Regions from separate parts of the Homo sapiens genome. Here regions 2, 3, 4, 5, 6 and 7 are each linked to region 1. The links come from fine-mapping of genetic effects on gene expression. A gene starts in region 1. Each other region holds a variant in brackets. All regions are shown on one strand. Distances are from middle to middle. Region 1 holds the start of CASC3 (CASC3 exon junction complex subunit). Region 2 holds the start of RARA-AS1 (RARA antisense RNA 1). Region 3 overlaps CASC3 (CASC3 exon junction complex subunit). Region 4 overlaps TOP2A (DNA topoisomerase II alpha). Region 5 has its middle 7.0 kb from the start of MSL1. Region 6 overlaps RARA (retinoic acid receptor alpha). Region 7 holds the start of GJD3-AS1 (GJD3 antisense RNA 1).

The links. PIP is the estimated chance that this variant, and not a neighbour inherited with it, causes the effect.
Region 2: its variant is fine-mapped to the expression of CASC3 in nucleus accumbens (GTEx, PIP above 0.99).
Region 3: its variant is fine-mapped to the expression of CASC3 in whole blood (INTERVAL, PIP above 0.99).
Region 4: its variant is fine-mapped to the expression of CASC3 in whole blood (TOPMed, PIP above 0.99).
Region 5: its variant is fine-mapped to the expression of CASC3 in subcutaneous fat (GTEx, PIP 0.92).
Region 6: its variant is fine-mapped to the expression of CASC3 in whole blood (TOPMed, PIP above 0.99).
Region 7: its variant is fine-mapped to the expression of CASC3 in whole blood (INTERVAL, PIP above 0.99).

Annotation. Positions count from the first base shown.
Region 1 is chr17:40,138,496-40,142,559 of GRCh38, reverse strand. CASC3 (CASC3 exon junction complex subunit) reads right to left here and starts at 2,023. Exons shown (of 14, transcript NM_007359.5): 1 at 1,781-2,023; 2 at 1,326-1,353; 3 at 953-990. The coding sequence starts at 2,011. RefSeq lists enhancers at 1,707-2,006, 1,472-2,412.
Region 2 is chr17:40,342,902-40,346,965 of GRCh38, reverse strand. All of the region lies in intron 2 of RARA (retinoic acid receptor alpha), which reads right to left. RARA-AS1 (RARA antisense RNA 1) reads left to right here and starts at 3,830. Exons shown (of 3, transcript NR_110861.1): 1 at 3,830-4,064. RefSeq lists a silencer at 1,432-1,481 and enhancers at 1,086-1,636, 1,637-2,186, 2,187-2,737, 3,838-4,064. The variant G/A (reference allele first, on the strand shown) is at 2,272.
Region 3 is chr17:40,168,879-40,172,942 of GRCh38, reverse strand. It overlaps CASC3 (CASC3 exon junction complex subunit), which reads right to left. Exons shown (of 14, transcript NM_007359.5): 12 at 3,497-3,619; 13 at 3,281-3,345; 14 at 772-2,496. The coding sequence ends at 3,322. Among named protein-coding and RNA genes, the nearest start is that of RAPGEFL1, 6.6 kb to the left of the region's middle. The variant G/A (reference allele first, on the strand shown) is at 2,332.
Region 4 is chr17:40,409,285-40,413,348 of GRCh38, reverse strand. TOP2A (DNA topoisomerase II alpha) reads left to right here. Exons shown (of 35, transcript NM_001067.4): 6 at 57-154; 7 at 378-590; 8 at 1,531-1,704; 9 at 1,894-1,995; 10 at 2,103-2,240. Among named protein-coding and RNA genes, the nearest start is that of TOP2A, 6.6 kb to the left of the region's middle. The variant A/G (reference allele first, on the strand shown) is at 2,207.
Region 5 is chr17:40,112,896-40,116,959 of GRCh38, reverse strand. No RefSeq gene overlaps it. Among named protein-coding and RNA genes, the nearest start is that of MSL1, 7.0 kb to the left of the region's middle. RefSeq lists enhancers at 1,525-2,310, 2,311-3,098, 3,129-3,188, 3,209-3,428. The variant G/A (reference allele first, on the strand shown) is at 2,014.
Region 6 is chr17:40,326,396-40,330,459 of GRCh38, reverse strand. The region is part of intron 1 of RARA (retinoic acid receptor alpha); the gene reads right to left. Among named protein-coding and RNA genes, the nearest start is that of RARA-AS1, 15 kb to the left of the region's middle. The variant C/T (reference allele first, on the strand shown) is at 2,384.
Region 7 is chr17:40,360,284-40,364,343 of GRCh38, reverse strand. It overlaps GJD3 (gap junction protein delta 3), which reads left to right. Exons shown (of 1, transcript NM_152219.4): 1 at 1-3,692. The coding sequence starts at 529. The coding sequence ends at 1,413. GJD3-AS1 (GJD3 antisense RNA 1) reads right to left here and starts at 1,499. Exons shown (of 1, transcript NR_186704.1): 1 at 1-1,499. RefSeq lists silencers at 1,156-1,265, 1,296-1,375, 1,496-1,565 and an enhancer at 1,393-1,687. The variant G/A (reference allele first, on the strand shown) is at 2,425.

The DNA of each region.
Region 1 (4,064 bases):
CCTCAAGTGATCCGTCTGCCTCAGCCTTCCAAAGTGCTGGGATTACAGGCGTGAGCCACTGCTCCCGGCCCCTGTGGGCTTTCTTGACTGTTGTTCTCTCTGCCTAGAACACATCTTACCCAGCCAACTGTTTAATCTTTCCCGACTGCCTAAGATGGATTCAGTACCCAGCTGTAACACCCTACTTAGCCCTATCCCAGTGCTATCCCCTATCAGCAAGTGGTACAATTGCTTGAATGTTTGTCTGACTTCCTTATTGAGTTGTAAGATCTCTAAAGATAGGAATTTTGTTATAGTGTTCACTATTCCATCCTCAAGGGCTTAACAGATTCTAAAATGTAGTAACAGTTCTAAAAATGTATAGACAAAATCTTTGATCCACCATCCAATTCCCCCTATATATAATCCCATTACCAGAACTCAGGAGTCCACTCAACAACCCAGGAAACAAACACTTACTCTGATGGCATCTCTAGTAGTTTATCCAAAAGACAGGAAACTTTCTCCTAAAAACAGAAAAATCCCCACCTATAAAATGATGGATGCTCTTGGCACAAAACATTCCGAATCCTACCCTTTCAAAGTCTTCAGATAGATTTGGAAAAAAATAACCAATTGGCTGGCTTCTCAACCTACACTGCATAAAACAAACTGTCAAACATCTTTCAGAGGACTTCAAGATATCCTCACTCTCTTATTTAGAACCTCATATTCTTCAGACAGGAAGAGAAGCCAACTAACAGTATAACACCTGTGGCTTGAGACGGCGTGCCCCAAGTTTTCCCTAGGTCTAAAGTGAACAAGACCTTCTGTAACACTTTTTCAGAAGCATAAATGAAGAATACACAAGAGGATAAACACGGAGGTCATGGTACGTTTGCAACGAAGGTGTGTACACGTTTTTAAAAAGCATTTCTGATCTATACCATAGGAAAAAACCTGTCATACTCACTTCCGAGTCTTCTGCACTTTCATAATCCGAGAGAACAGCTGAAATAAAACAGAAATATGTGGAAAAAAAGAAACCCAGAAACATTTTTTGGCTGCTTATTACAGGTCAGACTAAGAGTCTCATTTAATTCTGACATCAACCTACAACGTGGATAAAATTATAGTCCCCACTTACAAAAGGAGAAACAGGCTCAGAGGGTAACTTGCTGAAGACTATACTGCTAAAGCCTATGCTCTTAACCACTATGTTACAAAAAGGCACTCTGTGGCCCTAAATCCGTGACAGTGTGTGAGAATGTCGATGTTGGAAATAGATGACCTGAGTTTATGTTAAAAAAAACTCTTGTCCTAATGGGGTAAAAGATGCTACTCACCATCACCTTCAATGCCATCTTCACTCTCCTGAAAGAAAGCAGAAGACATGGGTTAGTTCTGTGATTTCCAGAGGTGGGGAGCCCAATAAAGAAATGTGGGTGAAAAGCTGAAGATTCAGCACAAAATGGTTGGAGAGGGAGACAGAGATAGGTAAATCTTTATCAAGTAGTAGCCAAGGCAGGTCTGGTCTCCTTCCCTCCAGCCCCGACTTCTGAATAAAACATCCGCTTTCCATCTCCAGCGGCTCTACCATCCTCCCAGAAACCCCCAATCCTTCTTCTTCCCTTGGAACTCCGGATGCAAACTCGCATTGGGATAACTCCCCTTTTCTCTCAAAAACAAAAAAAAGTCCCAGTATCTACTATCAACTCACAGACTACCTAGCATCACCTACACCCCGCCCCCGGCCGGCTCGCCGCCCGGTCCCCACCCCGCCCCGCCTGCGCGCACTCACACACTCCGACTCCTCAGCACTCTTGGCGCCCCCGCTCTCCACCCGCCGCAGATGAAGGGCCCCGGTTCGGCCTCCGCGCTGTGAAGGCAGAGAGCCGCTGCCGCCGCCTCCGGCGCTACCGCTGCAGCTCCCGCCTCCCCGCAACGGGGAGCCGCCGCTGTCGGAGCCCGAAGCACCAGATTCCTCGTCCTCGGTGTCTTGCGAAGCGCGCTGCCGCCGCCGGTCCGCCATCTTACGGAGAACGGCCACCACCGGCGAGGTACTTACGCACCGCGCCCGTCGCAGAGGCTGCTGGGAGGCTGGATAGCTAGTCCCGGCGTGCTACGCGTGCGGCGCTCGGCCATCCCGCTGTGTGTGTGTGTGTGTGTGTGTGTGTGTGTGTGTGTGTGTGTGTGTGTGTGTGTGTTGGGGTGTGTGTGTGTGTGTTGGGGTGTGTGTGTGTGTGTGTGTGTGTGTGTGTGTTGGGGGAGGGGCGGGGCACTGGGCGGGGCCTAGGCCTGCGGCACGTTTGCGGCCGACCCGGATTACGTCTATCGGTGATGTAAGGGGGCGTGGCGCGGCTCCTGACTTCCCTTGGGCAGGCCTAGGGCGAGGGGAATTGAGACTTCAGCAGCCTCCCGGGTTCCTGGCCCGGCCATCTTGGGCTTCCCGAGTGGAAGGAGTCAACCTGTCACAGCTTCACTGCAACACTAGGGCTGTTTCATGGTTTTCTGTTTCCATTTCTCACTTCTACCTACGTTTGAAGCAGGTCAATTTACTGCATTCCTTTGCTTGGTAAAATCACGAATCAAGGTAAATCTTAAAAGCTGTAGTGCTGCGTCAGATTTGCTGCACCAGCCTTGTTTAAGATAACGGGCGAAGGAGAAACCAGTTGTCTGCAGTGAAGCCAGAGGACTTCTTGTTGCAGCGTTTTCTCTGTGTTCTCATTTCCTCTTCACGTTTCTTCCCACCCCAGCCATCACCTGTCCCAAAGTGCAGGCTGGTATGATGCCAGTATTACCGGTTTTGTTTTGGCTTTTTCGAGGCAGGGTCTCACTCTGTTGCCCAGGCTGGAGTGCAGTAGCGCGGCTCACTGCAGCCTTGACCTCCCAGGCACAGGTGACCTCCTTGCCTTAGCTTCCTTAGTAGTTGGGACAACGGGCACACACTACCACACCCGGCTAATTTTTCTGTTTTTTGTAGAGATGGGGTCTCGCTCTTGCCCAGGCTTGTCTCCTGGCTGGGATCAAGCGATCCTTTCGTCTCAGCCTCCCAAAGTGCTGGGACTACAGGCATGAGCTACTGCCCTTGTCAGGATTTTAGAACCTATTTAAAAATAAATGGTCAGTAGAAACAGATGTTGATTCAAAATCCTGACATTATTTCCTTCTTAAGGTTTATGGAAATTATTTCATTTTGGCAAGGCATTGGCCACCATTGAAAAGAATCAGTGTGTTTTCTTTGGACCATTATAAGGATATACAAAGTGCATGAGCTAAGTTTTTAGTGCACCTACAGGAGTGCACGTTAATAATGTATGTTATCAAACAAAGGCCACCATGGCATAGAATTCTTCCCTGAGTAAAATATTTTTTTTTTTTTTGAGAGGGAGTCTCACTCTGTCTGTCGCCCAGGCTGGGGTGCAGTGGGGTGATCTCGGCCCACTGAAAGCTCCGTCTCCCGGGTTCACGCCATTCTCCTGCCTCAGCCTCCCGAGTAGCTGGGACTACAGGTGTCTGCCGCCAGGCCCGACTAACTTTTTATGTTTTTAGTAGAGATGAGGTTTCACCGTGTTAGCCAGGATGGTCTCGATCTCCTGACCTCGTGATCCGCCGTTCTTGGCCTCCCAAAGTGCTGGGATTACAGGCGTGAGCCACCGCGCCCGGCCTTTCCTGAGTAAAATTTTTATAAATGACATGGTTAAGGATCCTGATGTTTATCAAATTTATAGATAACATGAAACTGGAAGTAATTATGAATGCCTTCAGAGATGAAAGGAAAATTCAAGGCCGGGCGCGGTGGCTCACGCCTGTAATCCTAGCACTTTGGGAGGCCGAGGCGGGCAGATCACGAGGTCAGGAGATCAAGACCATCCTGGCTAACACGGTGAAACCCCGTCTCTACTAAAAATAAAAAAAAATAGACGGGCGTGGTGGCAGGCGCCTGTAGTCCCAGCTATTCGGGAGGCTGAGGCAGAATGGCGTGAACCCGGTAGGCGGAGCTTGCAGTGAGCCGAGATCGCGCCACTGCACTCCAGCCTGGGAGACAAAGAGATTCTGTTTCAAAAAAAAGAAAAAAAGAAAAT
Region 2 (4,064 bases), 200 kb before region 1:
TGACAGGGAACTAGGCCAACAACCTTGGCAGGGCTTTCCTGGCTCTTAGTAGTGCCTGGGCACCACTTCCCAGGCCAGCCTGGCTGACCAGCACTGCTATGGCCCCCCATCCCCTTCCCTGCCCCAAGACCAGCCTGCAGCAATGGGACAGTTGATGCCCACACCATCCCCAGCCCAGCAGATTCTCTCCTGACCTCCCCACCGCCGTCTGCTCTTCACTCCAACACCAACTGCCCTGGCCTGGTTTTCTCCCACCTCATTCTCCCCAGGCCAGACAAGCAAATCAGACAGGCTGAGAGGCCTGAGAACAGCTGCTGGGGGGGCGGGGTTGGGGGGCCTGGGTGAGGCCAGGAGGCAGAGGGGGTGAGCCACAAAGCAGCCCTTTGTTGTGCTAACTTTTTCCAAGACGTAAAAGCAGTAACAATAGACAATCCAGACTGGTGGGGGGAGGGGAGATCAAGGGCAAGGGGGTATGTGGAGGGTTGGGGGGACCATGGCCTAGAATCTTGGTCAGCATTCCGACAAGCAGAGGAAGAAGGCACTGACCTCCCCACCCCTCCTAATCCACCGTTTGCCCTGGGCCCCGCCTCTCCCAAGGCCCCACTTCTAAAATGAACCAGACTGGAGAGGGAGAAAGGACTGAGGGAGCTTTGGGGGTACAGAGCGGGATGTCACGAGGGGAGCTAGGGTATGGGGAGTCATGGGGGATACCAGGATGAGAGGTAAACAGCTCTAAGGCCTGGGACAGACTAGAGGGCAAAAAGCCATAAAAACATGGAGCTAAAGCAAAGTCCAACAGAGGGTGTTTACGGAACTGAGAGAATGTGCTTTTTAAAATTATTTTTTGGCAGAATGGGAGAGATGACCAGAGGCAAGGACTACAGTTTAGGCTGGGCAAGGCCTCCTTTTAGCCCACCCAACGGCAGCTTGACTGCCTTGGAGGCTGTAACATAGCCTGCCCCCTACCTCCAGCACATCCCCACCTGTCACCCAGGTAACCCAGCTCTGAGGTTTCCCTGCTCTGCCCTTTGAACCCAGAGCTCGATGCCCCACCTCCCCAGGCCTCCAGCCAGCAGTCCAAGGAGGTGAGGTACAAGGACCAAGGCCGGAGGTGTGGGGAACTCCGGAATCCTCACAGCCTCTGCAAGAGTTAGGACACGGCCATAACTCCCTGCACACACAGGTGGAGTGGGGAGGGACACCAACGGGGGAGGGACTGCCCGGGCCTGGCCCATCCCTGCTAACCTCCCTCCCCAGAGGCCCAGCCCACCAATCTCTCCTCTTCCTGCAGAAGGACTCGGGCTAGAGAAGGACCACACCTTCTCAGCTCAAAGTTCCAGCGCCCAACAGAGGACTGGAACTGACCCAGGAAGCCAGGCGTCCCCTCCCGCCGACGCTGCCAGGGTGCCCCTCCCTCGCTCCCCATCCTGGCAGGGCGGGCGGCGCAGAGCGCTCCACTCCGGATTCCCCACGCCCCCGAGCCGTTCGCAGGCTCGCACAAGGGGCCGGTTTCCTGGAGGAGATCAGCAGGAAATCAGCCGGGCCCCCGGCCAGCGGCTCCCCTCCCAATCCAGCTGGCGCCCGCTCCTCCGCAGCTCCCCTCGCAGCCCCTGGGGATGGTTGGGGAGGGGGCGTAGGGCCCTCTGTACCGTCCTTCCTCCTCCCGGGGAGAGGCGGGGGTAGCTCTGGGTGTACCGCGGCAGCGGAAGAAGGCCCCTAGCCCAGCGGCCGCCTGATAAGCGTCTCCCCCTCCCCCAACTACGGGCATCCACGTGCTTCACATTCTTGGACGTCTGGGAGCGGGCGGAGGTGTGAGTGGCGGAGATTGGTGGGAGACAGATGGGGAGCCACATCCTGTGCACCCCCCTTGTCCTCTAATGCACCGAAATGAGGGCTCTGGGGAGGGAGGCAATGTCCCTAGGGCCCTGCAGAACCCAGGCCACCTCCTCCCAGAGCCAACCTGCTCTTCCCACCTTCAGTGGCAGTAAAGGGGAGAGTGGAGAATTCCCCAAGAGGGGGCTGGAGGCAGCTCCAGTCACCAGCGGACTTCCACACACCCAAGGGGACCCTTCCAAGGTGGTGGCATTGGCCCCACATATTCTAGACTGAGTCTAGTTGCCACCCTCAGACTCCGGGTCCTTCCTGTGCCTCAAGGCAAGCCCCCAGACCCCCATCACTCCCAACCTCACAGCCTCAGGACCCGAGTCCACTGACACCTCACTCACTTATATATGCACACCCACGCTCAGACTACGGGAACTGGAAACCCAG[G/A]CCTCTAGGTCTACTACCCCACCCCAGAATGGATGTGGGGACAGGTCTCCACTTCCCCATGTCCAGTGGTTTAGGGGAAGGGCTCACCAATACACTGCCTGTCCTACTCTCTGTGATCCTCCTCCCTCTCCAGTTCTGGGCCAGGAAGAGCTGAGCTGTCCCCATGGGCTAAGAAGAGACAGGGGCTGGAGACCAAGGTCTCAGATCCCAGCTTCTCTCCAGCCCTCTGGAGAAGGTGGCCAAGGCAGTGGAAGGGGTGACTCTGGCAGCCCTGCTCCAACTATCCCCCTAGGGGAGGGGGGTCTTGCTCCAGCACTGGGAGAATGAGAAAAAGGGTCCTAGAGTCATCCTCTCACTCTCTCTTCTTCCAAAGTCAAGGGTGATACCTTCCCTCTTGTGTCTACAGCCACACAGCAGATTCGGCCCTAGAGGAAATGGTCGGGGGCAGGACAATAGGAAAAGCTGGGATAGAAGTGGCTCTGGGAGGGCAGAGGTGGGCTGTCTGTCCATCTCAGGTCTCTCTTCTCCCAGCAAGAGGGGTGGGGTAAGTCCTTTGCCCTTCAACCTTCTCCAATCTGCCAGGGCCCCCCCGAGACCCACTCCACCCCTCCTCCCTGGCAGGCAGGAGGGAGGCAGCAGGTCCAGGAAGGTGGGAGATCCTCCACGGAAGAGCTTCCCCTCCAGCAAAGAGCCCAAAGCCCAGGAGGGGAAGAAACCTGAGCCATCTAACAATAACCCCCTTGCGCCTGCTCCCGCCCACCCAGTGTACACTGCCTCACAGCTGCGCAGGAAAATGCCCAGGTGTACACCCTGGTGCTCCGAGCTCCTGAGTGTGCACAGAGCCCTTCCTCCCAGAGGAGCCTGCACCCAGGCAGGGGGCAACAAGGAGAGAAAGTGACCAGGCTGCCAGGATGCTAGGATTCTCATCAGTGCCCCTCTTAGGAAGGCACAGCCCAGGACCTGGCCCTATCCCCAAGTGAAGTCAGGGTAACAAAAGGACTCGGTGGCGGAGCTGGGAAGGGATGCAGTCCTCATTTCCAGAGCAGCCCCAGACCCACAAAAACAAACTCATTCCCCAGAGAACAAACCGGATTAGGATTAGGGGGAGAGGGATTCTTCTCACCAGAGCAGCTTCTCCCCTCCACTCCTGGGGATGAAAGCCTCAAAGATGACAGCCAAGTGTCTGGGGCCAGGACAACAACCCCATAAGGACCCAGTGCCCCTTGCCAAGATGGAAGGTTAGGATGGCAGACGGGTGTCTGATGAAGTTGCCCCTTTCTGCCACACCCCACTGTCAATACCAAAGACACTGAGTGCTCCCCTGACACCCACTCTAATGACGCAAGAGCAAGGGCTGGGGGCAGCAGCTGTCGCACAGGAAGGGGCTCTCCCTCGGGCTTTGGCAAGTGGGATCTGGCGGGGGGGCCTTCCCCCGGGAGCAGACAAACCCACACAGACAGGACCTTTACCCCACCCTCCAGCCTGCTGTGAAGCTGTTGGATTCCAGGCAAGAAGATATAAACTGGGGGCAAGGGGCTTGGGCTTCATTTCTCCTGGAAGAAGTGAAACAAGAGATGAAGGAATGTTGCTTGAAAGAAGGAACTCTCAAAGTTCCTCAGCCCTAATCTAACACAAATTGCACTTAGGGTTACTGGGGGGAGGGTGCGGCCGGGAGGGTTCAATTGTCCAGCAAGGGCAACACGGGTTAAGTGAAAGGTAGAGACAGGACCTCCACTACACCCCGGGACTCTCACCCCCGAGTAGTAGTGGAAGCCCTACCGCCCACTCCCACC
Region 3 (4,064 bases), 30 kb before region 1:
AGTCTCTCTAAGACTGTGTGGTCCTGAATACTTTAGTGTCAGCATCTTTACTTTTCCTTTTTTTTTTTTTTTTTTTTGAGACGGAGTCTCACTCTGTCGCCCAGGCTGGAATGCAGTGGCGCAATCTCGGCTCACTGCAAGCTCCACCTCCCGGGTTCCCATCATTCTCCTGCCTCAGCCTCCCAAGTAGCTGGGACTACAGGCACCCGCCACCACTCCCAGCTATTTTTGTATTTTTAGTAGAGGCAGTGTTTCACCCTGTTTAGCCAGGATGGTCTCGATCTCCCTGATCGAGATCTGCCCACCTCGGCCTCCCTAAGTGCTGGGATTACAGGCGTGAGCCACGGTGGCCAGCAGCATCTTCACTTTTCAAGAAAGCTAGCTACCTGTACTTCCCCCCAACCCAGGACTTGGTATAGTTATATTGACATCTGATGGCATATTACCTTGGGAAACTTACTTGCCAAACACAAAGGAAGCCATAAAGGATACTAGATGCTCATGTGAATAACCAGCATCTCACTACTTTTCTGTCCCTGACACTTCCAATCTAAGGGATGGCATGACATCCTGGTGATCTATGTGGTTAAAAAAGATAACTGATGGGGAGTGCAGACACATTTATGGCCTCATAGGGGCTCCTCATCTCTCTGGGCTTCTGTTTCACAACTTGGGCTGACCTGAGTTGTGACCGTGACCCTGTGGGGGAATTAGGGAGTCCTCTTCCCTCCCTCCCAAATCAAGACTCATGCAAAACACTGGCAAGGGAGCCAAGTTTATAGTCTAAATTTTATTATCTCCAAGTCACAATGCTGATCACAAATGGGCACCCTTTAAAACAGTAACAAAAAACACCACCACACATGGAAAAATCCTTGCAACTAAACACAGTGGACCAACAGAGACAACTCTCACAGTGTCTTAAGGTCTGGGAATCTGGGCATGCTGCCCACAGGCTTGAGGAGACATCTTCAGGTTTAAGGCAAAGGGAACAGCCTACAAAAGGCACAACCACCAGCTACCCCTAGAAGAATCTCTTAGTTATTTCCTCCTTGGGGGTTACAGATTAAGTGCCTCTCCCCACTCTCCATCCCACACCTGTGACTCAGAGTGATTAGGCCAGCTGCTAGATGGAAGGAATAAAAACAGTGACATTACCGGGGAGAGACACAGCCACCATCTTTGCCCTCAGGTTCTGTAGAAGGACAGGGACAGTGGCCAGGTTACCCCTGGCAGACGTATGTACTGCAGTAATAGGAATCTCTTCCACAGAGGCAGCAGAGAAGTGGTTTAGTGCCATGGATAGGGAGGAAAGATAGGAGCCCTTGCCCAGAAGGTGACTGGCTTCCTTAGGCCTTAAGCCCAGGAGTTTTTATATTCTGTCTGCAAGGACAAAAATAGAATTCGGGGAAAATAAGGTAGTAACATCTAAAACACTTGTAGCAGGAAAGACGTGGAGAAGAGCAATTGCAAAGGACAGGGTAGACTGCTTGCTGGATAATATTTGCCTTTAAAGAGATGCATTGGTCCACAGCAACTGGAAAAGGGGTGTAGCAAGAAGAATGGAAAGAAGAGAAGCAAGGCCCTCTAATTCCACTTACCTCAAAAGACTGAGCCCTGAGGACTATGTGAATACACACCCCTAAAGGCAAAGGCTCTCACTCCACCATCCCTTTCTCACAAAAGCATCTGGTGTGCCATCTCTCCCCACAGTAGGGTATTGGCCCTCAGCAGAGAACAGAAGCCCATCATAGTACAGGTATTGATGGATGCTCAGACTCCTAAAAACCTAAGTCAAAGAGAAGGGCTCCTACCCACCTACTCTGAGCTTTTCTGCACAATGGGACCCTCTGTGCAGACAGCCATGCTTCCACAGGGTTAGAGTTAAGGGAATACAAGTATACAAGAGGATAACAAATGCCAACTAAAAGTGAAAGGCCAGGTCTTTTTAGACTTGGTGGGGAAGGCTGGCTGATACATTCTCCATTATCTGGGATGCACGGAAGAGTCAAAAGGGAATCCAGAGGGGCTAGAAAACCAGAAGACTAGACTTGTTTCATTTAAAGGCAGGGAGAGAGAGCAAGAAACAGAAACAAAGAGAAAAAATTAAAATAATATTAAGGATAAGAAGCCAGGCTTTAAAAATGAACATCTTAGAAAACAAAACAAACAGGAAGGAGCTTCCTTGGGAACAGAAGACACTTCAATTTCCCAGAAGTGAAGAACAGCAGAAGACATGGGCTTCTGTATCTAGACTCAGAAGCTTGGGGCTGTCTGGCTCTCTCTGCTCCCCCGAACACAGCCAACTCAAGTGAAGAGTGAAGATGGGAC[G/A]AGGTCCACTTGTTTCTCCCTCTCTCTAGAGCCTGTCCTCAGAGGAAGGCAGGGGTCCTCCTCTTTCAGCTGTTTGCTGGTAGGAGCCACACCCTATATCTTTGAAGCCCTTCTGGTAGTAGATAGCCAGCTGTATTTCTCTTCTGAGTTCTCACCTCTGCTGCTCTGACAGGGGTTGGAAAAAGGGAAGAACCACCAAAGTGTTAGTGGGCCTTCTGGGCATTCACAAGCTGTTTTCAAAAAGCCACACTTCTAAATAATGTGTTTTAAGTAATGTCCTTAAACAAAAGCAACAAAACCCCCAGTCCTTCTCCTCTATGATCTTTAGAACTGGTTTTTTCTGCTATAACATCTCAAATTTAGATTTCCCTTTTCCTTGACTGCCTTCCTGTATTTTTTCCTTGTAGCTTCCCAATTGAAAACTGTCATGTTAACAATCGTTTCTACTTCAACCCTGCCCAATACACTTGCCAAACAAACAAACTGGCAAATTTCAGGACTCCTTTAAGCCTCCTGAGATATCCCATGATTATTATAACTTAAAGCATTAATCAGAGGCTGGGTGGGGTGGCTCACACCTGTAATCCCAACACTTTGGGAGGCCAAGGCAGGTGGATCACCTGAGGTCAGGAGTTCAAGACCAGCCTGGCCAATATGGTGAAACCCCATTCCCACTAAAAATACAAAAATTAGCCAGGTGTGGTGGTGCGTGCCTGTAATCCTAGCTACTTAGGAGGCTGAGGCAAGAGAATCGCTTGAACTCAGGAGATGGAGGTTGCAGTGAGCCGAGATTGCACCACTGCACTCCAGCCTGGATAACAGACTGAGACGCCGTCTCAAAAAAAAAAAAAAAAAAAAAAAAAAAAAAAGCATTAATTAAGTGATTTTTGTTTATTAAGCAAGTGTGAGCATTAGTTTTAACAATATTCACAGTAAGTTGTGCACTTACTTTTATATGATGTTAAGATTTAAAATATTCAGAAACTTGTATTAACTGGAACCCCTGCTTACAACCTGAAATAACAAAGTTGGAATTTGTTATCAGGTCATAACAAAAAGACTGTTTTCCAGAGAAACACACCCAGAAAATGAGGGAAATCCTCTGGGGAGAAGGAAAGCCCACTGACGGAGCATGTGCATTAAGTATAGGAAGGAACTCTCATACCTCAGGTGGAGGGGGCTTGATGGTGACTGGCTGGGGAGTCCTCCGGGGTGGGGAGGGCTTTGGCTGCACCTGCTGCTGGGCGGGGTTATAGTAGGTCACTCCTCCATATACCTGTGATGGGGCCTGGGACCCCACAAGCCAGGAGAAGAAAAAGTTAGGAATGAATTCATCCAACCTATGATGAACAGGAAATATTATTCAGCCATAAGAGAATTGGGGAATTTATAATTTTAAAAATATCTAATCTGCCCACCCTTCAAAATAAAGTGACTATTCATTTTTGCCTTAATTCTTCATTATTATGCTCTGGTTTTTATTTCTTCAAAGTACTGCCCAGCTTTCTCTAATTCCTACCATCAGCTGACAAATGGAAAAGGCTGAGTTCAGTAGCGACACTACAGATACTTGATTATGTCAACGTGGTGGAAGTTAAGCAGGACAGAGGTAGGGGTGATAAGGAGTAGAATACAGCTTCTTTATGCAATAGAGTAAAAACCAGGTATTGCCACCTATGATGTACCACAACACAGGAAAGAAACACCATTAAAGAAACTGAACGCTGGGTGCG
Region 4 (4,064 bases), 270 kb before region 1:
TAAAGCTGTCAATGAGATAGTAACAATAAAATAGTGTTTCATATTTATTTGCCCAGGTGGTCGAAATGGCTATGGAGCCAAATTGTGTAACATATTCAGTACCAAATTTACTGTGGAAACAGCCAGTAGAGAATACAAGAAAATGTTCAAACAGGCAAGTAAATAAGTGTCTTGTACCTTAATGATAAATGGTAGTAGTATAGCCATTTATAATGGCATTAATGATTGGTTTAATTTAACATAATTTATAAGCTATTGAAGTATGGAAAATTATAAGCATATATATTAGGTTATTAGGACTCATAAATTTATGTTATTTACTTCCAGTTTGTGAGATGACTTGAATTTTTCATGTTTCCTATTCTTTACTTCCATAGACATGGATGGATAATATGGGAAGAGCTGGTGAGATGGAACTCAAGCCCTTCAATGGAGAAGATTATACATGTATCACCTTTCAGCCTGATTTGTCTAAGTTTAAAATGCAAAGCCTGGACAAAGATATTGTTGCACTAATGGTCAGAAGAGCATATGATATTGCTGGATCCACCAAAGATGTCAAAGTCTTTCTTAATGGAAATAAACTGCCAGTGAGTATTTTCCTGGATGTTAAGGATAATAAGGGATTTTGTAATCATTGTCAAGTGCAAAATTGAATTTTTTCCCCTCCCATATGTTTTTGTTTGTTTGTTTGTTTGTTTGTTTGAGACAGAGTCTCACACTGTTGCCCGGGCTGGAGTGCAGTGGCACGATCTCGGCTCACCGCAACCTCCACCTCCCAGGTTCACGCAATTCTCCTGCCTCAGCCTCCCAAGTAGCTGGGATTACAGGTGCCTGCCACCACACCTGGCTAATTTTTTGTATTTTTAGTAGAGACAGGTTTCACTATGTTGGCCAGGCTGGTCTCGAACACCAGACCTCATGATCCACCCGTCTTGGCCTCCCAAAGTGCTGGGATTACAGGCATGAGCCACTGCACCTGGCCCAACCATATGTATTTTCTTACCACTTCTCACATATGTTCTTGAAAAGAGAATGGTATGCCACATTTTTTAATCAGCTCATTTTAAACTTACCGAAGGAATTTCTTTCTCAAAGAAACACCTAAAATAAATATTTCATGTCCTTTTTTTATTTTCCTTTTTCTTTCTTTTCTTGATAACCTCGCTGTGTCACCCAGGCTGGAGTACAGTGATGCAATCACGGCTCACTACAGCCTGGACCTCCCAGGCTCAAGCGATCATCCCACCTCAGCTTCTGGAGTAGCTGGAAATGCAGGCAGCACCACCATGCCCAGCTAATTTTTTTTTTTCTTTTTAATAGAGGTGGGGATCTCACTATGTTGCCCAGGGTGGTCTTGAACTCCTGGGCTCAAGTGATCCACCCACCTCGGCCTGTGTCCTTTAATGACCATTCCCTTATGCCTATCAGTGAACATCATTGCATTGGTTTTGGAAAGTCCTCATAGTCTATCATTGAACCTATTTTTTAATAACTTTCTTAATACTGTTACCTTTAATTCCTGTACAGGTAAAAGGATTTCGTAGTTATGTGGACATGTATTTGAAGGACAAGTTGGATGAAACTGGTAACTCCTTGAAAGTAATACATGAACAAGTAAACCACAGGTGGGAAGTGTGTTTAACTATGAGTGAAAAAGGCTTTCAGCAAATTAGCTTTGTCAACAGCATTGCTACATCCAAGGTAATTTTATTCTTAAATTATTAATCATGATTTATCTTTACATATATGTGTTCTTATTGTTTTTAATATATAAAGTGGACTTGAATATTGGGCTAGCTTAGTATAAAGGAGGTTAAATTAGTTTTTAATGTTTGATTATTATAATTTTGAGGATACTGAGTTTTACAGTTTGGTATTTTTCCTTATTAGGGTGGCAGACATGTTGATTATGTAGCTGATCAGATTGTGACTAAACTTGTTGATGTTGTGAAGAAGAAGAACAAGGGTGGTGTTGCAGTAAAAGCACATCAGGTATGTGCTTTTGGCAGTTTTCTTTTTCTAAAGTCAAGGAAGAAGAGAAAGGCTATAAATAAAGCATGAGTACATTTTTAGTGGCTTAATATCAACTTCTATTGCAGGTGAAAAATCACATGTGGATTTTTGTAAATGCCTTAATTGAAAACCCAACCTTTGACTCTCAGACAAAAGAAAACATGACTTTACAACCCAAGAGCTTTGGATC[A/G]ACATGCCAATTGAGTGAAAAATTTATCAAAGCTGTGAGTACTTAGAGGAAAATAAAAATAGAAACACCTGACTTTATTTTCCATTGCACTTCTTAGCTCTGCAGAAACAATGATTCTTCTCATAGTGAGCTTCTCCAAGTCTTCCCAATCTGAAAAGGAAGTAAAAAAGGGCTTTACTTTAACTGATTTACCAAAGACTTAATGACCGTCTATATTTCAGTATTTCCCAATTACATTTTACCATTAAGCTTAGATCACTTTTGAATTAATCTAGCTGTTTAACAAACACCCTCACTTAAATGCCTAAGACTTGCTTTCAGTCAACACATCCAAAATTGAATTTGTTACCTCCATACTCACTGATTTGCCCATACAAGCAGCCCCCCACTCTCCAACAAAAAAACAACTTCCTATCTTAGTAAAAAGCCCCAACCAACCTCTAGGTTGTATAAACAAGAAAGCTGGGAGCCTTCCTTTATTTCCCCTCCTCTCTAATCCGGTCAATAAGAATCATCTCTTGGATGCTGCAGTAGCTTCTCACCATTATCTCTTTTTTGGTTTACTACAATAGGTTCTTAACCTTCATACTGGTTAAGTCCTTTCCTTGGAATGCTTTTGAGTGACTTTTGTGTTAAAACACCCATTTTTATCTTCACTCTCATTTGAAATCTTTCAATGACTTCCACTCAGGGAAAGTCCAAATTCCATAATTTGGCCAACAAGAAAGATCTGCTGTAATCTAATTACACCTACTTCTCCAACTCATCTCAGTGCCAGTTTTTCGTATATTGTCCTGTTGCTTTTAAATTACTGAAAAGCACAGTGCTCTTCCCCTCCTCAGAGTTTATTCACATGCTAATCCCTCTGCATGAAATACATCCTTTTCACCTGGCTACTTTAGGTCTTGTCCTTTCCTCAGGAAAGCCTTTACTTTCTACCCTTCCCCCCACCTAAGTTGGTTCCAATATAATATTGAACATACCTTATTAGCAAACTTTTTGCTTATCCATAACACTTATAACACTGTAACTTATTTTATTTCTGTCTTTTTTTTTAGGCAGAGTCTCGCTCTGTCGCCCAGGCTGGAATGCAGTGGCACGATCTCGGCTCACTGCAACCTCCGCCTCCTAGGTTTCAGTGATTCTCTTGCCTCAGCCTCCCGAGTAGCTGAGATTACAGGCATGCATCACCATGCCTGGCTAATTTTTTTGTTGTTGTATTTTCAGTAGAGACAGGGTTTCACCATGTTGGTCAGGCTGGTCTCAAACTCCTGACCTCAAATGATCCACCCATCTCGGCCTTCCAAAGTGTTGGGATTACAGCCATGAGCCACTGTGCCCAGTCTTTTTTTTTTTTTTTTTTGAGACAGAGTCTTGCTGTGTTGCCCAGGCTACAGTGCAGTGACGTAATCCTGGCTCATTGCAATCTCTGCCTCCCAGGTTCAAGCGATTCTCCTTGCCTCCTGAGTAGCTGGGATTCTCCAGCCTCCTGAGTAGCGGGGATTACAGACATGCACCATCACATCCAGCTAATTTTTGTATTTTTAATAGAGATGGGGTTTTACCATGTTGGCCAGGCTGGTCTTGAACTCCTGGCCTCACTTGATCCACCATCCTCGGCCTCCTAAAGTGCTGTGATTACAGGCGTAAGCCACTGCACCCAGCTATGTCTGTCTTCTATGTTGTGTCTTAAACTTGATGAGGACAAGTGTCTCAATTTGTTTTATTTGTGTCTAATTTTATTTATTTATTTTTAATTTTTTTTTTTGGAGACAGCTTCTCACTGTTTCCCAGGCTGGAGTGCCGTGGCTTGATCTCAGTTCACTGCAACCCGCGCCTCCCAGGTTAAAGCAATTCT
Region 5 (4,064 bases), 26 kb after region 1:
AATCTCGGCTACACAGGATGCTGAGACAGGAGAATCGCTTGAACCTGGGAGGCAGAGGTTGCAGTGAGCCAAGATCAAGTCACTGCACTCCAGCCTGGGTAGCAGAGTGAGGCTCTGTCTCAAAAAAAAAAAAAAAAATTAGCCGAGCATTGTGGTGCATGCCTGTAGTCCTAGCTACTTGGGAGGCTAAGGCGGGAGGATTGTTTGAGCCCGAGAGGCTGAGGTTATAGTGAGCTATGATCACACTGCTGAACTCCAGCCTGGTTGATAGAGCAAGACTCTGTCTCTAATAAAATAGTGAAACCTAGAGAAGAGTAAATTTGTCTAGGAACAAATTTGAACATACCATCTGGAAGGAATTAAGGAGGAAGTGACAACTGAGGTGGGCCTTGAAGGTTGAGATCAAAGGACATTTCAGGCAGAGGTAAGAACATTGCAGCTGGGCACAGTGGCTCACACCTGTAATCCCAGCACTTTGGGAGGCCGAGGCGGGCAGATCACGAGGTCAGGAGATCAAGACCATCCTGGCTAAGACGGTGAAACCCCGTCTCTACTAAAAATTAAAAAAAATAGCTGGGCGTACTGGCAGACGCCTGTAGTCCCAGCTACTTGGGAGGCTGAGGCAGAATGGCATGAACCTGGGAGGCAGAGCTTGCAGTGAGCCGAGATCGCGCCACTGCACTCCAGCCTGGGAGACAGACTCTGTCTCAAAAAAAAAAATTAGCTGGGCGTGGTGGCATGTGCCTGTAGTCCCTCCTAATAGGGAGGCTAAGGCAAGACAGGAGAATCACTCAAACCCAGAAGGCGGAGGTTGCAGTGAGCCGAGATCTCACCACTGCACTCTAGTCTGGGTGAGAAGAGCGCAACTCCGTTTCAAAAAAAAAATAGGATGTAACTGTAGAAAATGGGAGAAGTTCATTGGAGTGTAGTTCTGGATAGTGGGGCATGTAGGGGATAAAACAGATTGAGACCAGATTATGAAGGTCTGAAGGCCCAGTTAAGGAATGTATAATTTATCAGCCTTGGTGAAACATCAGAGGATTTCCACCAAAGTATAGAATGATTAGATTTGTGTATCTGAAAGCTAACTTCAATATTTGCGTCTCTGCACCAAAAGCCGGAGGCCAACTTGAAGGCTGTTAGTGCAGGTGTGAGATGATGAGTGGTTAAGATACTAGTAGTATGGGGATATAGAGGGAATGACAGGAGGAGACTCAGCTGTTAAGAGCAAAGTTTCTGGTGTGAAACTGCAAATAGCAATCACAGTTCTCCCGTTTAGTGGCTGTGTGTTATTTAACCTCTACCTCAGGTTGCTTATCTGTAAAATGACTATACTAATACCTTACTTCACAGGGTTATTGTGAGGATTAAATGAGATAATCCATGTAAAATGTTTATCATAGCATGTGGCACCTAGTAATGCTTGATAATGTAGTTATCACATTATTACTAATTGGCAGCATTTGTTGATCAATAGAAAGTGGGGTGAGGGAGAAGGAGGGCTTTACCGTCAAATTTCTAAGACTAACCAGCTGGCAATTCCATGAATAAATTATATGTTTTCTTCCTCTCTAGCCCAATTGTGGTTCCAGGCCAGCACCTTCAGTATCACCTGGAAACTTGTTAGATATGCAAATTCTTGGCTTCCCACCTTAGACCTAATGAATAAGAAACTGTGGGGTGAGATGCAGCACGTGGTGTTTTAACAAGCCCTCCAGGTGATTCTGATGTACTTCAAGTTTGAGAACCACTGCTTGGGACTCTACAACTGGGGTTGGTTGACTTTTTTTTTTAAACGGGGTCTGGCTGTGTTGCCCAGGCTGGAGTCCAGTAGCTGTTCACAGACATTATCATACCTCGAACTCCCAGGCTCAAGTGATACTCCTACCTCAGCCTCCTGAGTCACCGGTACTACAGGTATGCACCACCATGCCTGGCTAATTTTTACATGACATGGGGCCTCACCATGTTGCCCAGGCTGGTCTCAAACTCCTGGGCTCAAGTGACCCATCC[G/A]CCTTGGCCTCTCAAAGTGCTGGGACTACAAGCATGAGCCACTGTGCCTGGTCTCAACATTTTTTTTTTCTGGAAACTTTACAGCTCTGAAATCCAAAGTCTAGGATTTCACTGCTCCAGACTAAGTAAACATGCTTTTCCCCACCAAAGCCAAAGCTGGAATTTTTGGATTGGAGGTCTGATCTTGATCTCAATACACAGGATGACCTGGCTAAACCACCAGAAAACTGAAACCTGAGAAGAGAAGGTCTTCTAAGAAGGGAAAGGAATTCTTGTTTCCAAACCATTAAGTTTTAAGCTGTGGTGATCCCTGAACTAAGAAATGTAAAGAAGGGAGCTCTCAAAGGCCCAGAGGGGCAAAGTGGAGTTGCCAGCTGTGAGGGAGCCTAGGAAAACTGTGTTTAGGACCATAAATCAAGTCCTTAAGTCTTTTTTTTTTTTCTTTTTTTTGAGACGAAGCCTTGCTCTGTCACCCAGGTTGGACAGTGCAGTGGTGCAATCTCGGCTCACTGCAACCTCCACCTCCTGGGTTCAAGCAATTCTTTTCTGCCTCAGCCTCCCGAGTAGCTGGGATTCCAGGCGCCTGCCACCATGCCCGGCTAATTTTTGTATTTTTAGTAGAGACGGGGGTTTCACCATGTTGGCCGGGCTGGTCTCGAACTCCTGACCTCAGGTGATCCGCCCACCTCAGCCTCCCAAAATGCTGGGATTATAGTCACCGTGTCCGGATTGAGCCACAGTGTCGGGCCTCCCTAAGCAATTCTGTCCCTAATGAGATAATGACCATTCTTTTTGCCTTCTGGCTAAGAGTATGGAAAGAGTTAAAAGCCAATACTTTCACCACCCCTCTAAGGCTTATAGAATGGCAGAATTCCATTTCTATGACCTACATTCTTTGAAGGGAATGCCTATGTCGTGGAAAGAGGATGCAGCAAGACTTTTCACTTGACTGGGCTTGGTTTTCCCAGACCAAAAAATAAAATGGAAATAAATCATCTTTAAGGTCCCTTGCAGCTTTATGACTGTATAAAGCTACGTTTTCCAGCTAACAGTGGGGCAGAAGTAGGTAGAAAAAAGAGGAGACTTGTTTTGGCCACTCCCCAGGGAAAGAGGATTCATCTGGGTGGTTTCCTGAAGCTCTCGGAAAGGTAAATAGAGACTGGAGTTGTGTGACTGGTATTACCCCAGTCCTGTGACACTGAAAGGACACCACAGTTGGAGAGGCCACCTTTGCCTTCTCCGGGAGGATGGGGGATGGGAAGCCAGCGTGGAGCCACAGAGGCTTCCAGCTCCGCAGCCTGGCCTGGCTCAGCTCTTTCTGGCAGAAACCATGTCCTGCGTTCCAGGCTTCCGCGAGCAGGATGCTAGTGTGCTGCTCTCCTGCTCCCCTCTGCGGGGGCCTCTCAGAGGGTAGGACACACCCTCCTTGCCTTTTTTTTTTCCCCCTATTAAAAATCACAACTCAAATTTGGGTATTTTTCTCCCTCTGCTAGCCCCGCCAAAACTTTCAGCGCGTTCCGCCCACTCCACGTGGACCTCCCTTCCCTGTCCCAGCAGCCCCTGCGAGAACCCTCACCCCAACATGTGACCAATTGTTATGTTTCCTTCCTGGAGCTCGCTTTCAGCTGGCACCAGCTAACGACTGAACAAAAGTGCCCCCTTCAGGGTGAATGTGGGGCAGCAGCTTGAGAGGAGGAAAGCTGATGAGGGCTCAGGTACAATAGGGGAATGCAGCTGCCTCTGTTTAAAATGATTTCATATCTACATAGCTCCCTGGCTAAGGATTACACAATCAAACGATGAGACAAATGCAAGAGAAGGATGTCATCAAATAAAATTACTTGGGGGTGGAGTTGAATAAAATTTTAATTTCCAGCTGCAAAGTTGGTTACCTCTACTCCAACTCCATTTCCCGTTGAGTTCTTCATGATGTTGGCAGAGCACTCAGATCCTCCCATTCCAGACAAGAGCCAAGAATGCCCTAATTATGGGCTGGGTGATGGGAACAGGGCCTCCTCTGGGTGGGTGAGCTGCTTTTTGCTCACTACCAC
Region 6 (4,064 bases), 190 kb before region 1:
CCGCTTCCCTAAAGCATTGGCACTTCTCAGAAAAATGACTCCTAAGCCAGGGGGCCCCTCTTACACCACTTCCCCCCCAGATCCAAGCCCCAGCACCCCAGACGGGTTTGTCCCACAGGCCCTGGGAGGAGGCCCATTTACGTACACACTAATAGGAAAATGGGAACCAAGGACTCCTAGGTATCACCTCCAATGCTTAACAGCATGGATGGTCCAGGGGTAGGCGATGTGTAGGAGGGCAAGGACCGCCCAGGAAGCCTCCTACCCCCAGGCAATGAAGGAGAGATTGATCTCAAGGTTCACCCACATACTTCTGTCTGCAGAAGCAAAACACATGAACTGGGGTGGGAGGTGGGCAGAAGATGAAAGGCCAGATGCCCCCTTCACCAGTGTGAATACAGATCCACACCCTGTTTGAACAGCTGGCACCAGAGGATATGCACAGATAATACCATGGGGTAGAGACAGAGACAGAGATGAACCCAGAGATTCCATAACACAGTGAGACAGATAGGCAGCAACAAGAGCAAAGAGAGAGAACACGAAGAACATATCCATACGAGGACAAGAGGATGTTTCAAATCCATTTTGGGTACAGGTTATATATAAATACATATGCATGTATTTATATATGAAAAATACATATATGAAAGACAAAAGAAAAGAGACAGACAAAAAGAAACATGGCCAATCAAAAGCACAATGAGGCTGGGGGCGGTGGCTCACGCCTGTAATCCCACCACTTTGGGAGGCTAAGGCAGGTAGATCACCTAAGTCAGGAGTTCAAGACCAGCCTGGCCAACATGGCAAAATCCTGTCTCTACTAAAAATACGAAAGTCAGTTGGGTGCGGTGGCTCACACCTATAATCCCAGCACTTTGGGAGGCTGAGGCAGGTGGATCACCTGAGGTCAGGAGTTTGAGACCAGCCTGACCAACATGCCGAAACCCCATCTCTACTAAAAAATACAAAAATCTACTAAAAAATTAGCTGCGCATGGTGGCAGGTGCCTGTAATCCCAGCTACTTGGGAGGCTGAGGCAGGAGAATCGCTTGAACCAGGGAGGTGGAGGTTGCAGTGAGCTGAGATCACACCATTGCACTCCAGCATGGGTAACAGAGCAAGACTCCGTCTCCAAAAAAAAAAAAACACACACACAAATACAAAAGTTATCCAGGCGTGGTGGCACATGCCTGTAATCCCAGCTACTCAGGAGGCTGATGCACGAGAATTGCTTGAACCTGGGAGGCAGTGAGCCGAGATTGTGTCACTGCACTTCAGCCTGGGCAACAGAGTGAGACTCCATCTCAAAAAAAAAAAAAGCACAATGAGATACCACTTCATACCCACTAGGCTAGCTCTAATAAGAAAGACAGATAATAACAAGTACTGGCGAGGATGTGGAGAAATTGGAATCCTCATATATTGCTGGTGGGAATGTAAAATAGAATAGCTGTTTTGGAAAACAGTTTGGCAGTTCCTCAAAAGGTTAAACACAGCGATGGCATATGACCCAGCAATTCTACTCCTAGGTATCTACCCAAGAGATATGACAACGTAAGTCCACAGAAAGACTTATACATGAACATTCACAGCAGCGTTATTCCTAATAGTCAAAAAGTGGAATCAACCCAAAAGTCCATCAACTGACGAATAAATAAAATGTTGTATGTCCCTACAATGGAACATTATTCTGCCAAAAAAAGAATGAAGTACTGATACTATGATATGGATATTCCTTGAAAACATTATACCGGTTACAAAGACCATGTATTGTAGGATTCCATTTATATGAAATATCCAGGATAGGCACATTTATAGAGACAGAAAGCAGACTTGTGGTTACCAGGAGCTGGGGCGTGGATTTGAGGAATATGGGAAGTGACTGTTGCTGGGTATGGGGGCTCTTTCTGGGGTGATGAAAGTGTTCTAAAATTGATTGTGGTGGTAGTTGCACAACTCTGAATATACTAAAACCACTGAATTGTACACTTTAATGGGTAAATTTTATGGTATGTGAATTATATCTCAATAAAGCTGTTTTAAAAAGAAGAGGAAAGAAAGAAAAGAAACAGGGCCACAGAGACTCAAAATAAGGACTGTCCATTTCCAACACCCCCTATACCTTGCCACTCCACCCCAAGCTCAGGCTACACTAGGTTCCAAGCTCTGAACTCCAGACTCTAGCCTCAAATCTGGAGTCCAGGGGACAAGCACATGGCCAGCATTTGGTTGAAGACCAGGCCTGGGAAGGGGGAGTTCCTGCCAAGGCCACTGTGGAAGAGGCCAGGAATTCTGGCCCAGCTGAGCCAGCCAGCCTGTGTGGAACTGAGGGAGAGAGGGTGGGAGGGGACAGGTACTGGGCTAGGGAGGGGAGGCTGCC[C/T]CAGGAGTAAAATCTGGACCTTGCTAATAACCACGATTTTTACTGTTACTCATTATGACAATCATAGGGCCTCTCTCCTCACTCCTGAATAAAGAGCTCCCTTCCTACCCCAGGCCCCTGCCAATTCCCTCCTAGGCTGAGAGGGCTGATGTCAGAGGAACAGGGGCCCCACCCACTGGACCAGTTGCCGCCCTGGCCCCCTCCCAACTCCTGTGGGGCCCCACACAACGGGAACTGGAGCTGGGGGAGCCATGCAAGGGAAGAAGAGGCTGGCAGAACCTCATCAGTTCCTACAGTTGGACCCTCACACACAAATACACATACAAACTCATGCATGCAGGTCTACAGAAAACATCTGGGTGGGCAAGAGCACGCCTGCAGCCCCAGCCTGTGTGTGTGCAGGCATGCATGTGAGGAGAAGGAACCTGGAGATACCATCTCTCCACACCTGGGCTCCACCACACAATGAACACAGCTCAGAAACTGCATGCATGGGCCCCAGTACACAGCTCCCCAAAGACACAACCACAGCCCCACAGTCTCCCAAACTGTACATTCTCCGAACCTCACACAGCCAGGGTGGCCCTTGTACCTGCTGCTTCTGCCAGAAGATGCTCTGAGGTCCTCCCTGTGGGCCCAGCCCATGCACCAGGTCCACAAACACTCAGGTGAATTCACATCCACAGAGGCCTGCCTCTCTCAAGGTGAGGCCCAAGGGGCAGCTAACCCAAAGTGAGGCCTCTGTAACCCACGCTGAGGCCCAGAAAGCCATCACTCCAGATCTCAGGCATCCTGACCCAGCCTTTGGGGGTCGGGAGGCCAGTTTAGTCAGTCCAGCCTGGACCCTCTGGAACCCACCCTTGCTCCCAGAGAAGAGAAAACCACAGCCACCTCAACTCTGCCCCAGTGGAGTTTGAAATTGAATCAAACTTCAATCCCCACTACCCCCACCTCACCCCCAGCCCACCACCCACACACACTACAGGGCAAGGCTGGAAGGCCTCCCCAGACCCCTATCAGAGCCTCCAAAAAGCCTAACCCAGCTCTGCCTGCAAATTTCAGTGCAAATTTACTCAGCTCCCTGGGGAGGGCCTTGAGCCGCAGGAGGGCTAAAGGTCACAGAAATAGGCCAAGGGCCAGAAAGACCAGAGAACAGGGATGGGCAAGGGTAGGGATGACCAGGGTGGGCCCAAAAGGGCACAGACTCTGCCTCAGAAGGTCCATCAGAAGCTATGACCCTCAGAGAGACACCTGGGCCCCAGCCCCCTACACCCCAGGGGTGGAGAAGGCCTCGGCAGAGAATCGAAACCAGTACCAAAGAGAGGGAAAACAAACTACCCACATCCAACCTCCACCCTATGCCAGCCACCTCCACTGCCCACGGGCACCCTCCCCTGAGAGAGAGAAAACCACAGGCCCACACCTCCAATATATGGAGCCTAGCCTAAGCACAGCAGAAAAAGGGGTAGGGGGCTAGAGCACCTGCAACCAGCCCCACACTCCTGCCCACTGGGGCCGCTCTCACCCTCAGAAGGTGCCAGGATCCCTTCTCCAGCATCAGCATCCCTAGCTGCCCACGCGTTACACCCCAGAGTCACACACCTAGAGAAAAAGGTGAGAGCTTTCTGAGCCACGAAGATGGGAGAAAGAACCAGAAGTCGGAAGGGTCAAATCTCAGCTC
Region 7 (4,060 bases), 220 kb before region 1:
GAGAGAAATGGTGGGCCAAGAAAGGAGTGGTCTCGCTGCCTCTGCCACTCCCACTCCTCCCATGGGCACCAAATTGGGTCTAGCGTCTCGGGTTCGAGGCTCCACTCTTCCCACAGCATCCTTGACAGCTAAGGGCACCGCTGGGTTTCCGCTTCCGAAACCAGGCAAGTCAGGGGCTGGTCCAGCTGATCTCCAAGGTCCTTCCTAAGAATCTGGGATCTGGAGGATCCCAGGGTCGAACGGAGACGGCTCAGGGGGTGCGGCTAAAATGCAAATGGGGGATCCTCCCCAGCACCCATCGGTCCCAAAGAGAAGGTAACCCATAGCTGAGCGTCGCCTGCTCCCCTCGGGCCCTCCCGTGGCCCTCCGTTTCATACTGGTCTCATCGCTAAACCCGGGCCTCTCCTACCTCACGACTCACCCTGAAGTCAGAGAAGGTCCAACGGACCCCACCCCGATAGGCTTGGAAGGGGCAGGGGTCCCTGACTTGCCCCATCCCCTGACTCCCCGCCCCGCGTCCCCAGCGCCATGGGGGAGTGGGCGTTCCTGGGCTCGCTGCTGGACGCCGTGCAGCTGCAGTCGCCGCTCGTGGGCCGCCTCTGGCTGGTGGTCATGCTGATCTTCCGCATCCTGGTGCTGGCCACGGTGGGCGGCGCCGTGTTCGAGGACGAGCAAGAGGAGTTCGTGTGCAACACGCTGCAGCCGGGCTGTCGCCAGACCTGCTACGACCGCGCCTTCCCGGTCTCCCACTACCGCTTCTGGCTCTTCCACATCCTGCTGCTCTCGGCGCCCCCGGTGCTGTTCGTCGTCTACTCCATGCACCGGGCAGGCAAGGAGGCGGGCGGCGCTGAGGCGGCGGCGCAGTGCGCCCCCGGACTGCCCGAGGCCCAGTGCGCGCCGTGCGCCCTGCGCGCCCGCCGCGCGCGCCGCTGCTACCTGCTGAGCGTGGCGCTGCGCCTGCTGGCCGAGCTGACCTTCCTGGGCGGCCAGGCGCTGCTCTACGGCTTCCGCGTGGCCCCGCACTTCGCGTGCGCCGGTCCGCCCTGCCCGCACACGGTCGACTGCTTCGTGAGCCGGCCCACCGAGAAGACCGTCTTCGTGCTCTTCTATTTCGCGGTGGGGCTGCTGTCGGCGCTGCTCAGCGTAGCCGAGCTGGGCCACCTGCTCTGGAAGGGCCGCCCGCGCGCCGGGGAGCGTGACAACCGCTGCAACCGTGCACACGAAGAGGCGCAGAAGCTGCTCCCGCCGCCGCCGCCGCCACCTCCGCCACCGGCCCTGCCCTCCCGGCGCCCCGGCCCCGAGCCGTGCGCCCCGCCGGCCTATGCGCACCCGGCGCCGGCCAGCCTCCGCGAGTGCGGCAGCGGCCGCGGCAAGGCGTCACCGGCCACCGGCCGCCGAGATCTGGCCATCTAGGGGCGGGCACCGCCTCGCGCGGACTGGACGGCGAGGGCCGGACCCCGCCACCTCCGCCCGCACCGCAGAAGCCGGAAGCTGCTTCCACCAGAGCTGTCGCGGGACCTGCCCCGGCAGGAGACGCGTTGTGGGGACGGCCCGCGGGCGGCATCGCACTTGCCTCGTACTGCCTCCCAGTGGCTGCCGGCGGCACCTGGGGCAGGCCGGGCTGGGGGCGGAGAATGAACTCAGGCAGGTCCTGGATGCCACCACCCAGGTGGAAAGGAAGGAGACCAGGACCCTGAGAGAGAGTGGACCCGAGGGGGAGAACAGAGCGGAAGGTGGAGAGTGGTTGTTTTACTGGGGACAAAAACAACTGTGATGCCAGCATTCTCAGGCACTCTCTGTGTTCAGAGAGAGAGTGGTCCCCCTGTGGGCTCTCTGCGAGTGTGCATACACGGACACATAAGCACTGTGAGCTGTGTGCACGCGCACCTGTACACCCTGTGTGAGCGCTGTGCATGTGCGCGCATGTGTACACCCTGCGTGAGGCCCACTTGTGCACACAGACACACGTAACCCTCCCGGGTGAGCTGTGTGCACATGCACACAGAAACATATGCCCCTTGAGAGCTGTGTACTCACATCCCTGTGAGCTTTGTGTGAGTGCATTGTGCACACACGCACATGTCCATTCTGTGTGGGCTGCGTGTGCACACCTGTACACAGAAACATCCTTGTGCGCTATGTGTGCATGTGTACATCCGGCGTGACCTCTGTGTGTGCACGCGTGTGTGTGTGATCTCTGATATGCACTGCGGGGGTGGCCAGGATCCGATGCCAGCTGCAGCCACAATGGCTCCCTCCCTACCACCCTAACCCAGCCCACCTGCCAGGGCATCACAGGAGGTCTGTCCCCCCCTCCCAAGAGACCCCGCCCAGGGAGGGAAGAGGAGGAGAGGCTCCCTTTCCCCGGGCAGGCCTCAATCCTCGGGAGCCTATGAGCAACATCCTCACAGTACCCCTTGTGGC[G/A]AGGCGGGGGCTGGGCGCTTTCATGGAGGTGGGGTGGGGGTGGGCGGCGGGCCAGAGGGCAACCCAGACGTGTGTTATGCCTCCCTCCTCCATCTTCATCCTCCCCGCCGCTACTGCTCCCCCAGGCTATAAACGGGAAAGTCCCTTCTGTCCTCAGGAGAAAGCTCCCAAAACACACGCGCTCCCGGCCCTGCCTTCCCTTCCAACCACCCCCTTCTTCCTACTTGCGGGCATTCGAAGAGCTGCTGCCTATGCAGCGCATCCCCCTCCTGTGTCTCCCCTCCCGTCTGCCCTCCCCCTTCACCAGCCAGTGGGCTGCTCTCCATAAGATCACCCAGGACCTAAGCGAGAAATCCAGGGGCCGTCATCGGACTGCACCTTGCGGGCCTCACCGCATCCTGCCTACCAGGCTGTGCGTTCCCCGCCATCACCCCACCCTGTCCTTCTGAGTTCCTGGCGTCTTTCTCAGCTCTCCTGTGCCCCACACAGCAGTGGGAGGTGTTTCTGAATAGCGCCCCCCACTTAAACCCGGGACTGAGGGCAGCACCCCTGCCCTCAGGGTGAGTCAAGCGCCTTCACAAAGCTTCCTTCTGAAGCCCTGCCCCTGTCAGGCCTTCGACTCCACAGCACCGGCTTCCAGGTGTGCTCAGAACCATAGGGAATTTTCTCTTCTAACAAGCACCAGACCTGCTTGCTGCCAAGCGTTTGAACGTGCTGTTCCTTTGCCCAGAGTAGCCGCTGCTTCCTGCAGCCTTCTCCTCCCCTAGCTAATGCCCACCCACCTATTGTTGTCACTTGGGAAGAAAACAGACACCTTCAAGGAGAGGGCTCCCCTGGTAGCCCCCACCCCAAGACAGAGCTGGATGCCCCTCGCTTCCGTAGGGAAAGCACTTCTCCTGCAGGATGGCATTGCTCTCTCCCCTTCCATGGCACGTAGTATGTGCTCAGTAAATATGTGTTGGATGAGAAACTGAAGGTGTCCCCAGGCCTACACCACTGCCATGCCCGAACACTATCCATGCTATGGTGGGCACCATCTCTCTGATGACAGTTCTGTGTCCACAACCCAGACCCCTCCACACAAACCCAGATGGGGCTGTGCCGCTGTTTTCCAGATGTATTCATTCAACAAATATTTGTAGGGTACCTACTGTGTGTCAGAAGATGTTCAAGATCAGCATCATCCGATGGAAATAGCATATGAGCCATGTATGTAGTTTCAAGTTTTTCATTAGCCACATTAAAAAAGTAAAAGGAAACAAATGAAATTAATTTTAGTCACGTATTTTATTTAACCTAGCACACCCAAAGTATTTTCATCTTAATGCCTCATTGATATTAAAAAGTATTAAGGAGATAGTTTACATTCTTTTTTTCATACTAAGTCTTCCAAATCTGCACCCACCTAGCCAATTCTTTCCTCTAGAGATTTAGCAATGAGCCTCGGCTACAGCGGGAGACTCCGTCTCAAAATAAATAAAACTAAATTAAAAAGAGATTTAGCTGAGAGAGGCCACCTCTTCCAGGAAGGCTTCTGAGCCCTGCCCCAAGCGTGATTCAGTGCCTCTGCCCTGCACTCCCGTAGGCCTGTCAAGCCTGTTGCAGCTCTGCCCAGGTGGCATCCCGGTCACCTTCC